Linked DNA regions of Homo sapiens: all the other regions are reported to be linked to region 2. Evidence: microRNA targets listed by miRTarBase, many of them from high-throughput screens and not tested one by one. Region 2 holds a microRNA gene; each other region holds the end of a gene's coding sequence.
What was found. The annotated mature microRNA hsa-miR-4524a-3p reads UGAGACAGGCUUAUGCUGCUAU and lies in region 2 at 2,188-2,209, shown strand. An mRNA with a match to its seed (bases 2 to 7 or 8) in the 3' UTR can be bound and repressed. Matches are read on the target gene's strand: a 7mer-m8 pairs with bases 2 to 8, a 7mer-A1 pairs with bases 2 to 7 and ends in A, and an 8mer does both.

Region 1: miRTarBase lists PARD6G as a target of hsa-miR-4524a-3p. Seed matches in the 3' UTR shown: 7mer-m8 at 1,098-1,104 and 7mer-m8 at 1,265-1,271.
Region 3: the mRNA of KCNMB1 is a reported target of hsa-miR-4524a-3p. Seed matches in the 3' UTR shown: 7mer-A1 at 2,161-2,167, 7mer-m8 at 854-860 and 7mer-m8 at 162-168.
Region 4: miRTarBase lists COA7 as a target of hsa-miR-4524a-3p. Seed matches in the 3' UTR shown: 8mer at 2,377-2,384 and 8mer at 2,675-2,682.

The regions. Positions count from the first base shown.
Region 1 is chr18:80,157,179-80,160,277 of GRCh38, reverse strand. PARD6G (par-6 family cell polarity regulator gamma) reads left to right here. Exons shown (of 3, transcript NM_032510.4): 3 at 1-3,046. The coding sequence ends at 507. All of the region lies in intron 1 of PARD6G-AS1 (PARD6G antisense RNA 1), which reads right to left. Among named protein-coding and RNA genes, the nearest start is that of PARD6G-AS1, 11 kb to the right of the region's middle. RefSeq lists a silencer at 459-528.
Region 2 is chr17:69,098,680-69,101,778 of GRCh38, reverse strand. MIR4524A (microRNA 4524a) reads left to right here and starts at 2,147; the gene lies at 2,147-2,215. ABCA6 (ATP binding cassette subfamily A member 6) reads left to right here. Exons shown (of 39, transcript NM_080284.3): 22 at 845-982. It overlaps MIR4524B (microRNA 4524b), which reads right to left and starts at 2,237; the gene lies at 2,123-2,237.
Region 3 is chr5:170,376,188-170,379,286 of GRCh38, forward strand. KCNMB1 (potassium calcium-activated channel subfamily M regulatory beta subunit 1) reads right to left here. Exons shown (of 4, transcript NM_004137.4): 4 at 1-2,786. The coding sequence ends at 2,517. It also overlaps a transcript of KCNIP1 not described here. Among named protein-coding and RNA genes, the nearest start is that of KCNMB1, 12 kb to the right of the region's middle.
Region 4 is chr1:52,685,266-52,688,265 of GRCh38, reverse strand. It overlaps COA7 (cytochrome c oxidase assembly factor 7), which reads left to right. Exons shown (of 3, transcript NM_023077.3): 3 at 98-3,000. The coding sequence ends at 546. Among named protein-coding and RNA genes, the nearest start is that of COA7, 12 kb to the left of the region's middle. RefSeq lists a silencer at 103-303.

The sequences.
Region 1 (3,099 bases), not on the chromosome of region 2:
CTGCTGGCTGTGAATGACGAGGTCCTGGAGGTGAACGGCATTGAGGTGGCCGGGAAGACGCTGGACCAGGTCACGGACATGATGATCGCCAACAGCCACAACCTCATCGTCACCGTCAAGCCCGCCAACCAGCGCAACAACGTGGTGCGCGGCGGCCGCGCGTTGGGCAGCTCGGGACCGCCCTCGGACGGCACCGCGGGCTTCGTGGGTCCCCCCGCCCCGCGCGTCCTGCAGAACTTCCACCCCGACGAGGCGGAGAGCGATGAGGACAACGACGTCGTCATCGAGGGCACACTGGAGCCTGCACGTCCCCCCCAGACCCCGGGCGCGCCCGCAGGCAGCCTCTCCCGGGTCAATGGCGCGGGCCTGGCGCAGCGGCTGCAGCGGGACCTGGCCCTGGACGGCGGCCTCCAGCGGCTGCTCAGCTCCCTGCGGGCCGACCCCCGTCACAGCCTGGCGCTGCCGCCAGGCGGCGTGGAGGAGCACGGGCCCGCGGTCACGCTCTAGACTCCCGAGAGGCCCCCAAATCCTAGCTCCAGTTCCCCGGTAAGGACAGGGACAGGACCTGCAGACTGCATCCGCTCATTTTTTGTTGTTTTTGTGACCACAAAAACAACGCTGCTCTTTGTTTCAACTTCCGGATATAAAAACACAAGTATTGCCTATTTTTATAGAATTTCGCCACAGAACTTAAAATGAACGCCTGTAGAGACACTCTATACCAGGCCTGAGTGCAGGTCTTGGCGCCTTTGCAAAGTGATAGAAAAGATCTGACCAAGTGCAAAAAAATGCTTTTTAAAATTTTTACAAATACTTTGTTTTTAAAGTGAAGCTTTAAAATTACTTTTTTAAAATAGTCAAATTCATGTTTTTAAGTAAGTTGGCCCATGCAACATATCTCAGCATTCTTGCTGTGCTCTCTGCTGACTTGCAGGCGAGGCCGACTGTGCTGATGTACGTGACAAGAGGCTGGTTTTTAATAACGAATGCAGCCAGGTGCAGTGGCTCACGTCTGTAATCCCAGCACTTTGGGAGGCCTACGTGGGCTGATCACGAGGTCAGGAGGTCGAGACCAGCATGGCCAACATGGTGAAACCCTGTCTCTACTAAAAATATAAAAATTAGCCAGGTGTGGTGGCAGGCGCCTGTAATCCCAGCTACCTTGGGAGGCTGAGGCAGGAGAATCGCTTGAACCCGGGAGGCAGAGGTTGCAGTGAGCTGAGATCGCACCACTGCACTCCAGCCTGGGTGACAGAGCAAGACTCTGTCTCGGGAAAAAAAAAAAATACACCCAAACCTGTCCATGTACAACCATGGAGATGAATTCCAGATTTTCACACTGTTCATAGTCATAATTCGGTTGGGACAGGAGAGCTCCCACCAGCACACTTATGGCACCCGCAGCTGTGGAATTGTTCCGGGGCTTTTTTTTGTTTGTTTTGAGACATAGTGTCTTGTTCTGTCATCCAAGCTGGAGGGATCTCAGCTCACTGCAACCTCCGCCTCCTGGGTTCAAGCAATTCTCCTGCCTCAGCCTCCCAAGGAGCTGGGACAGGCACATGCCACCATACCCAGCTAATTTTTGTATTTTTAGTAGAGATGGGATTTCACCACGTTGGTCAGGCTGGTCTTGAACTCCTGACCTCAGGTGATACGGTCCCCCCTCAGCCTCCAAAAATGCTAGGATTATAGACGTGAGCCACAGCACCAGACCAGGGGCTATTTTTGTGACCCACATAGGTGGCCCATTCAGCCTCAAGGGGAAATCCAGGGTAGGAAGCAGCAGCTCTGCTGGACTGGGCTCAGCAGTCCCATTTGGGATGTAAGCCTCTATTGCCTCTAAGATGACCCTTTTCCTGTGGGTTGACTGACTCTGAGGGCGATTTCGGAAATGTTTTCAGCAGAAATGAAGGATAAGCATCGCACATGTCCAGCAATGTCTTTGAGAATGCAGTCATTTGCACGTGAGTTCTCATCTTTGTTTTCTGAAACAGACGTTTCTTTTAGTAAGTCACAATACATGCTAATTTTCATTTCTAGAATGGTCACTGGCAGTTCTCACTTTTAACTATAAGAAGTCACGTGGAACTTAGTGATTTTTAACAAATACTAAATTCATCCTCACTTTATGTTGATCTTCCAGCAACGTTTATATATTTAGTAATTTTAAAAATTCCTATTTGATACAATTAAATTTTATATAATGTGTTTTGCTTGAATAAAATGTTACATTTATACTTTGAGAACTCTGACCAAATCTTTCATACAGATACAGGTAAAGAAATATTTTTCTAGGTTGTCGGAGCTGCGTACCTCCCGCTGCTTCTCCTTGTGGTCCAGCACCACCTGCTGGTCAGTGGCAGAACTGTCCTGACTTCGTGAACATGGAACTGCTAAGAGGGAAAACTGCATCTCAGCATTTTCATTTTTTCTGAATATTAAGTGAAAAGCAAGTTCTATTTTTAAGAAATAGCTTTTGCTGAGGAGTTGTGAATTCCTGCACCTGTGTTTGATGTTATTTGTATGCAATGGATTGCTGGCCCTTTGTTCCTAAGCAAGAGAAGACCAAAGATGCTTCCCCATGACCTCTCCGGTGAGGATCCGCACCCCCCGGACTTGCTCTCTGATGAAGGGCATGTCGTTCAGTGCCCCAGCAGTCAGAAGCAGTTTTTGTGGAACTAAAACTAATAATGTTACCCTCACAAAGGAAATGTTCTTTTACTAAGTTATTGCTGATTCTTGAATGTCTGTTATATAACTGGGTCGGCTATCAAGAAGGAAGGTTATATTTCTTATCACATTTTAAGTTGTTAAGCAAATGTGAGTTTTTTTTTAAGAAATGAGGCTTTCACTGAGATTTGTGTGCTATTCATAATTTTAGGAATTACTGCTTAGAACAGCTGCTTGGGTGTATTTTTCTACACAGGTCTGTACTTCTGCCACTTTCTCCTTTTAAAAAAACAAAACTATGCATATTATGTATTAAAGTTTTCTTGGTTTTATATATCAGAGAATAAAAACTTTTTTGACTTTTGAGTAAACAAAATGCATGAATATTTCACCTGTGTTCTAAGTGGAAGAGAATACCAGAGATAAAGT
Region 2 (3,099 bases):
CCTTCTAATAGATTAATGAACATTTTCCTAAACATGAAGTACATAAATATAAAGATTGCTTTAGGAAGTGGGGAAATGCTTCTTTGGCAGGGTAAGGATGAATATTTAATGAACTCCATGCTTATCTCCTATCCAGAAGGCCAGCATTCCTTTGCTGCTGCTGCTGCTTTTTTTTTTTTTTTTGAGACAGAGTCTCGCTCTGTCACCCAGGCTGGAGTGCAGTGGTGTGATCGCAGCTCACTACAACCTCTGCCTTCTGAGTTTAAGTGATTCTTCTGCCTCAGCCTTCCAAGTAGCTGGGATTACAGATGTGTGCCACCACACCTGGCTAATTTTTGTATTTTTTAGTAAACATAGGGTTTTGCTATGTTGGCCAGGCTAGTCTCAAACTCCTAACCTCAAGTGATCTGCCCGCCTTGGCCTCCCAAAGTGCTAGAATTACAGGTGTGAGCCACCATGCCCAATCTTCCTTTGCTTCTTCATCATAAACTGACAGCATCTCCTTGTCAGGGAGACTTTTAAACTCTACTAAATGAAATTTCCCCATCAGCAAAATGGAGACAAAATTATCTAAAATTAGTAATACAAATAAAAATTCATATTGATTGTATGCTGACTCTGTGCTAGAGCTTAATGTACATGAATAGAGTGTCATTTAAGCCCTATAACAACCCATTTAGTATTTCCTTTTCATAGATGAGGAAGGTAAAGCTCAGAAAGTTTAGTTCACTTGAAGATGGACACACAACAAGCATGTGGCACTGTTAGGATCTTTTATACATAAACCTTGCCTTTGTTCTTTAAGAATTTAGCATTAACATTATTTATTTGTTTCTGTTTTAAGGATTATAGATTTTCAGTTGTGTGTAATACCAAGAGATTGCACTGTTTTCCAATTCTTATGAATATTATCAGCAATGGGCTACTTCAAATGTTTAATCACACACAACATATTCGAATTGAGTCAAGCCCATTTCCTCTTGTAAGTATTGGATTTACTGAGTCTAAACAATTAAGAATTGGACAAATAGCCTATGTTTTCTCTCTTTAGCTTTTAAATATCCATAAGTGATTGTTAAGCCTGAAAATTATTATTTTATCCTAATATTTTCAATGGGTTATAGCAAACAAAACAGGATTTTTTTTTCCTGCCAAGTTATCAGATAATTATCGTGAGGGAATACTTTTCAATATTTTGTCAGTCTTCTAGGCAATGTTTTGAAAAGTTGTACATACTTGATTGTGGAAGTGTATGAGAAAGAGAAACAGAAAAAAGAAAACACTGACTTGGAAATCAGGAGAACTTGTAACCCTGGTTACATATAAATCTATTATAATTAGTTAGTGGACCCTCCATTGACTAAATGTGTAGTAGACAGACTAATATGAAGGAGAATCTGCCAGTTCTGGGGCTATCTGTTGATTTATTTATTCACCTACTCATAGTTGCTCTATGTTGTGAGGGAGCCTAATACACACAGGCTGCATTGGATTCTGTGTCAGTTGGCTATAGTCTGGCTTCAGACAGTTTGGACACTAGAAAGCAGTGGTGGGAGACAGAAGAGCAGAGGACCCCCTACATTGGGCTCCAGTCACATCACCTCCTTCTGCTGTTCCTGAAGCCCAGAAGCAACAATAGCTTGCTTCTCACTTCACCATCTTTGTGGGATGCTCATCACCCACCTAACCATGTCATAAGGAATTGCACTCTAAGAACTTAACGTAGTCATGGTTTTCTGGTTAGACCCTGCCTGATACCAACAGGGGTGTCTCAAAGCTGACTCCAACTGTTTCACACCAGAAGTCTGAAACATCAAGAAGCAGGATTAGAAATGAAGCCATCCAAAGGGAAGTCCATTTTGTGACAAAAGTGTGAAGCTCAGTTTTGGCTTCACTGAATCAGTGGTGCTGGGAGTATATGCAAGCACAGGTTTTCTGTAAGCCATGGGAACAATGGGGATGAAATATACAGTACTTGAGATGTTCGTGACAGACACATACCTCCGTGAGTTGAGTATGACCGACTGATCACGTAAACAGGTCTGCTGCACAGGATGACTCGAGGGAAGGGGTGTCTGAAGGGAATTCTCCAGAAAGTGGAACCAGAGGAGTAGCAGAAAGAGACAGTGATTACCCTTCCTCTTTGGAACGATAGCAGCATGAACCTGTCTCACTGCAGAATTATTTTGAGACAGGCTTATGCTGCTATCCTTCAAAAGAACACATCCACCCAGCTACTGAGGTTTCCATCTCTGGGTTTGCTCAGAAAGACATGCTGCTCAGGCCTGAATTATGTGTTCATCAAAGGTCCTAACTTCTGAATTATTAGCTTCCTAATGCCATTGTGTTTGCTCAGGATCAAAATGGACTGAAGCCCATAGCTACTCTATTAGAAACCTGTTCCCCACTCCCACTTCCCCATGGCACACACCTTTCCTCCCTCATTCCTATGATGAAAAACAGAATTTATAGACATAGCCCTCAAAGTCTTAAATAAAGTTAAATAATTGTGGAATTATTTTGAGACAGGCTCATGCTGTTATCCTGTAATTATATCCATGAGGTGGTCCTAGATGCTGCTAGAGTGTCCACTTGGCCTAGCCTCAAGTGGATGCTGATTTGGGGGTAGTGATTTAAAGTTCCTTTCCCTGAAGTTAAGACAAGCAGCAACAAGTTTTCTTCTTGGTTCTGTGCTTCAGAACACATCCACCCAGCTACTGAGGTTTCCATCTCTGGGTTTGCTCAGAAAGACGTGCTACTCAGGCCTGAATTATATGTTCATCAGAGGTCCTAACTTCTGAATTATTGTTTTTTTGTTGTGGTAATAATACATGATATAAAATTGACCATTTTAGCTGTTTGCAAGTGTACAGTTGAGTAGTATTAAGTATATTCACATTGTTGTGAAATGCATCTCCAGAACTTTGCCGTCTTGCGGAATTGAAACTCGATGCCAATTAGCTTTCCCCCTCCCCCATCCCCTGGAAATAACCATCCTATTATGTTTCTATGAATATTACTAGTTTAGAAACCTTATATAAGTGGAATATTTGTCTTTTTGTAACTGGTTTATTTCACTTAGCATATTTTCCAGGTTCG
Region 3 (3,099 bases), not on the chromosome of region 2:
TCTTGCTCTGTTACCCAGGCTGGAGTGCCGTGGCGCGATCTCGGCTCACTGCAAGCTCCGCCTCCCGGGTTCACGCCATTCTTCTGCCTCAGCCTCCTGAGCAGCTGGGACTACAGGCGGCTACCACCACGCCCGGCTATGATTTTTTCTATTTTTTAGTAGAGACAGGGTTTCACCGTGTTAGCCAGGATGGTCTCGATCTCCTGACCTCGTGATCTGCCCACCTCGGCCTCCCAAAGTGCTGGGATTACAGGTGTGAGCCACCACGCCCGGCCGACTTTTTCTTGTTACTAACAATAGCTCTTTTTCCCTGATCCTCTCCCTCCTCCTACCTCCCGCCCTCCAATAGGCCTCAGTGTGTGTTGTTCCCCTCTTTGTGTCCATGTGTTTTCATCATTTAGCTCCCACTTATAAGTGAGAATATACAGTATTTAGTTTTGTGTCCCTGTGTTAGTTTGCTAAGGATAATATTTGGCCTCCAGCTCCATCCATGTCCCTGCAAAGGACATGATCTCCTTCCTTTTTATGGCTGCATAATATTCCATGACGTATACGTACCACATTTTCTTTAATAATGGGTACTAGACTTAATACCTGGGTGATGAAATAATCTGCACAACAAACTCCCTTGACACAAGTGTACCTATGTAACAAACCTGAACGTGTACCCTGCAACTTAAAATGAAAGTTAAGAAAAAAACACACACACAAAACAAACAAAAAAAACTATAGTTGCCATTTTAAACACCTATGATGTGTCAAACATTCCTTCAGCCCTCCCAACTATCCAGAAAGAGTCCTTCTTTTATAGATGAAAAAACTAAGAATCAAAGAGATGAAATCGGGCAGAGTAGAGACAGGATTCAAACCCAAGATCTGCATCTTGGACTCACAACACTGGAAGAAACTTCAGACACCAGCCTAACTTCACACCCAGCTCAGGACTGGCCCTGCCGAATGGTCACTCACCTGCTCTGAAAATCCTCGCGACAGGACGCTCACTTCCTACACCGGTAGTTCTCTGGCTCGAGGTGTGCCACAGAATCCCCTACGCATTGTTAGAACACAGAACATTGCTACCCCCACCCCGTGCAGGGCTTCTGGCGTGGTGGGGCTGGGACAGGGGCCTGAGAGTGTGCATTTCTCACAAGCTGCCACAGGATCCTGATGCTGCTGGCCCAGGGACCACACTTGGACAGTCATCGTTCTAGGAAAACTTCCTGGAGTGGGAATGGTAAAGGTGATGGCTTCTTCCCATTTTGCCCTTTTCAAATCTGAGATAGGCTTCCCCAGCAGGCTCAGTGCCAGAGTCCATACCCTCAATTTAAATAACAAATCCTCCTCTATATCATGACCTTTCCTCCAGAGGGTTGTTTTTCATTTTTTGTTTTTTGTTTTTTTTTTGAGACGGAGTCTTGTTCTATCACCAGGCTGGAGTGCAGTGGCACAATCTCGGCTCACTGCAAGCTCCGAACCCCGGGTTCACGCCATTCTCCTGCCTCAGCCTCCTGAGTAGCTGGGACCACAGGTGCCCACCACCACGCCTGGCTAATTTTTTGTATTTTTAGTAGAGACGGGGTTTCACCATGTTAGCCAGGATGGTCTTGATCTCCTGACCTCGTGATCCACCAGCCTCGGCCTCCCAAAGTGCTGGGATTACAGGAGTGAGCCACCGCGCCCGGCCCAGAGGGGTTTTTAAGATTGTGTGTTCTGAATGGCCTGTCTCTGACTGGAACCCAACTCCGTCCCCAGACCCACTTCCATCTTTTTCTGTGAGGGGGACACACTCTTTCAACTTTTCCAAAATGGCATCTACCATGGCTTTTCTGATTAAAAGCAAACGAAACACACCCTTCCTATAATCAAAAATTTAGAAAAGCAGCAAAAATAAAAAGGGGATAAGGAAGAAAACAGAAATTAACCACCATCCCACCGCTAAAATTTTGATGAGTTCTCATGTGTTTCCTTGCAGCTGATTGTTGTTTGGCATACATTTATTAATATTGGAATTAAAAATATATATGGCACTTTATATCCTAGAAAATAGTAATACTGTAAATGTGTTCTAGAAATGGGAGCTGCTGTTGCTCTTATTAGAGAATTCAAACAAAGAAGGGAGGCTCGCTGGGGACAGCTTCTGGGGGAGGATGGGTACCGCTTTGAGACAACAGGGAGAACTCAGGCACAGAGGTGACGATCATCGTTCTCTGTGGGGCACATAGTGATGCAGCCGGAAACAGGTATGAGTCAGTTGAGTGGGGACAGGTAATAGAGAGCTAGAACTGGCTGGCCTTATGGCCTCCAAGGCATTGGGGAGCCACTGTACATTCTTGAGCAGGCAATGACTTCACAAAAGGATTTCTCAAAGGTTAGTCCTGCAACAGAAGACAGCGTGGATTGGACTGGAAGAGTGGGAGGGCAGGTGGAGAAGGCATTGTGCTGCAAGTGGGGAGCAGCCCTGGGGGCCCAGCCAGTCCCCTGTGCCCTGACAAGTGGTATGGCATGGATGGATGGCTCTACTTCTGGGCCGCCAGGATGGACAGGTACTGGTTGCTCTTCACCATGGCGATAATGAGGAGGCCACCGGTCAGCAGGAAGGTGGGCCAGAAGAGGGAGAAGAGGAGGGCCTGGGGCCCGTAGAGGCGCTGGAATAGGACGCTGGTTTCGTTCCCCCGAGGTGCGGAGAAGCAGTAGAAGACCTGCTGCTCTTGGAATTTGGCTCTGACCTTCTCCACGTCGGCCCGGGCCGTCTGGTAATTGTCCACGCTGCCTGGGATGTAGGAGCACTGTGGGGAGAAACAAGAGCAGCTGTGGGCTTGGAAATCCCCATTTCTTAGCCAAGGGCTTGATATGGAGTAAAGAAAAATACCAGCTTTGTAGTCGGGCCCCTGGATTGGAGTCGGGGCTTTGGTCTAAAGCTTGGCAGGCCATGCGCTGTACAGGTCTGGAGAGCACGCTCTCATTTGTGTCTTGTGTGTGGATGGCGGTGCTGGAGCTGCTCGGGGTACAGGCTACACACCTGGGCGCAGGTCCTACCTTGGAGTCCTGGCTCTGCTTGGATTGGCTGTAGAATTTTTGGCAAATTTCTCACTCTTTCTG
Region 4 (3,000 bases), not on the chromosome of region 2:
TCTCCAAAAAAAAAAAAAAAATTCACTGACTTTGGCCTGAGACATTTAGGTTGTGCCCTGGCTTGGGTTTATTTTTTCCTACTTTCCTTCCTCTCAGGTGGTCTGACCCAGGACCTGAAAGCTGCCGCCAGGTGCTTTTTGATGGCGTGTGAGAAGCCTGGAAAGAAGTCAATAGCAGCATGTCACAACGTTGGCCTCCTGGCACATGATGGACAGGTTAATGAGGATGGCCAGCCTGACTTGGGAAAGGCCAGGGACTACTACACAAGGGCCTGTGATGGTGGCTATACTTCCAGTTGCTTCAACCTCAGTGCCATGTTCCTGCAGGGTGCCCCAGGCTTTCCCAAGGACATGGACCTGGCATGTAAATACTCCATGAAAGCCTGTGACCTGGGTCATATCTGGGCCTGTGCCAATGCCAGTCGCATGTACAAGCTGGGGGATGGTGTTGATAAGGATGAGGCCAAGGCCGAGGTGCTAAAAAATCGAGCCCAGCAGCTACACAAAGAACAGCAGAAAGGTGTCCAACCCTTAACATTTGGGTAATGTGGTCCACCCTCCCTCCCAGGCAACAAACTGCTTGAGGCTGGCAGCTCCTGTTTCTGAAGACTGATGCAGCCCTTGAAGGTCAACCTGCTGGAGCAAAAAAACTTGGGACTTGAATTTGTAGCTCCATTTACATGGATCCATTGCCCCAGCTACTGGAGTATAGCCTACAATGTTTATTTCAGTCAATATTCCTTTATCTGGGTGTTCTGTACAATGTTTATTACAGTCAATATTCCTTCATCTGGATGTTCTGTGAAGATAGCCATGTTTATGGGGGTCTTAGTTTTCAAACTCTGGCAACTCTGTGAAAAATAGGAGCAAACTAGAGAGCCCTGGAGATTGGTAGTAGGGAAGGGAGGATAGCAGGAAGTTTGAAAAATTAGCAGCCCCGGGGCCTAAAGGAATCAGCTGTCATCATTTTCATCATTATTATTTTGGTTAGGATGGCTTGAAAATCAGAACGTATCTTGGTTTACGTAATTGAGGTCTTAAAGAACTAAGAACAGTTAAATAGTCACAACTACCACCCTCTGACTTACATAATCATTGGTGTGGGCTTCGTTTTGCCTTTAGAGTCACATCTTTCAGTAAATTCACAGAGATCAAGAGGGACGTGCAACATACAGCTTAAAGGCTGTTATGCTTCAGGGTTGCTGAAGAAGATGAAACATCAGCCTGCCATCGTCTAGAAGAGACATTGGCAGTTAAAAATTAGCACCTCCAGTGTAGTCGCCTGGCACTGCCCATCATGCTGAGGGAGCAGATTCTTCCCAAGGCAGCTTCAGCTAGGAGTTTGTAAGCAAGGACTTTGTGACACATTTGTCCCCTGGAACTGAGCCTTTTTAACTGTCCCTGTGAATGAACAATTTTGAGTGACCTACGGTTTGTGTTAATTAGTGTTCTTTCCAGATTCCAGGTACCGTAGAGAGTATGTTCTTTGTGGTGGTTGTGCCTTTTAAGAACATTTGTGGCCGGGCACGGTGGCTCACGCCTGTAACCCCAGCACTTTGGGTGGCCAAGGCGGGTGGATCACGAGATCAGGAGATCATGACCATCCTGGCTAACACGGGGAAACCCCATCTCTACTAAAAAATACAAAAAATTAGCCGGGCGTGGTGGCAGGCGCCTGTAGTCCCAGCTACTGGGGAGGCTGAGGCAGGAGAATTGCTTGAACCCGGGAGGCGGAGCTTGCAGTGAGCTGAGATTGCGCCACTGCCCTCCAGCCTGGGCGATAGAGTGAGACTCCGTCTCAAAAAAAAAAAAAAATTTGCTTTTTCTGTTGTCTCCCCAGCTTGTCACCAGGGGGCGAGCTTGCCATTTCCCTGCTGGTAACAATACCATTCTGTCACCATCTACTGTTTTAGGCTTCCGTTTTGCAGCCGTCCTGAAAGGAAGGCTTGCTGTGTAAATGAAGGCTTGTGAGCACAGCAGCCAGCCTCTCAAGTTGATAGAGGACAGGGACTTCCCCAAGTGCACAGAGGAGATTTCAAAAGACATCAAATTCACTTTTTAAAAATGTAAAGTAGCTTTTGGTGTGCTTAAACTAGGTCAGGCCAGGCGTGGTGGCTCATGCCTGTAATCCTAGCATTTTGGGAGGCCAAGGCAGGTGGATCACTTGAGGTCAGGAGTTCGAGATCAGCCTGGCCAACATGACGAAACCCCTTTCTCTACTAAAAATATAAAAATTAGCTGGGCGTGGTGATGCATACCTGTAATCCCAGCTACTTCGGAGGCTGAGGCAGGAGAATCACTTGAACCTGGGAGGCAGAGGTTGCAGTAAACTGAGACTGTGCCACTGCACTCCAGCCTGGGCAACACAGCAAGACTCTGTCTCAAAAACAAAAACAAAACTAGGCCAGGTGCAGTGGCTCACGCTTGCAATCCCAGCACTTTGGGAGGCCGAGGCAGGCGGATCACGAGGTCAGGATTTCGAGAACAGCCTGGCCAACATAGTGAAACCTCGTATCTACTAAAAATACAAAAATTATCTGGGTGTGGTGGTGGGCACCTGTTGTCCCAGCTATTCAGGAGGCTGAGGCAGGAGAATCGCTTGAACCCAGGAGGTGGAGGTTGCAGTGAGCCAAGACCATGCCATTGCACTCCAGCCAGGTAACAGAGTGAGACTCTGTCTCAAAAAAACACACACACACACACACACAAAACTGTAGGTCAAAAAACATGAAAATATGTTCAACATCACTAATTAGGGAAATGTAAATCAAAAACCACAATGAACTCTTAAAATTCAACAGTAAGAAAACAACCTGATTAAAAACAGGCCAAAACCCTTAACATATCTCAGCAAAGAAGATAGACAGGTGGCAAATAAGCATATGAAAAGATGTTCCATATAACATGTCATCAGGAAAATGCAAGTTAGAACAACAGACCACTATACAACTATTAGAATGGCCAAAATCCAAAGCACCGACAGCATGAAATGCTGGGAAA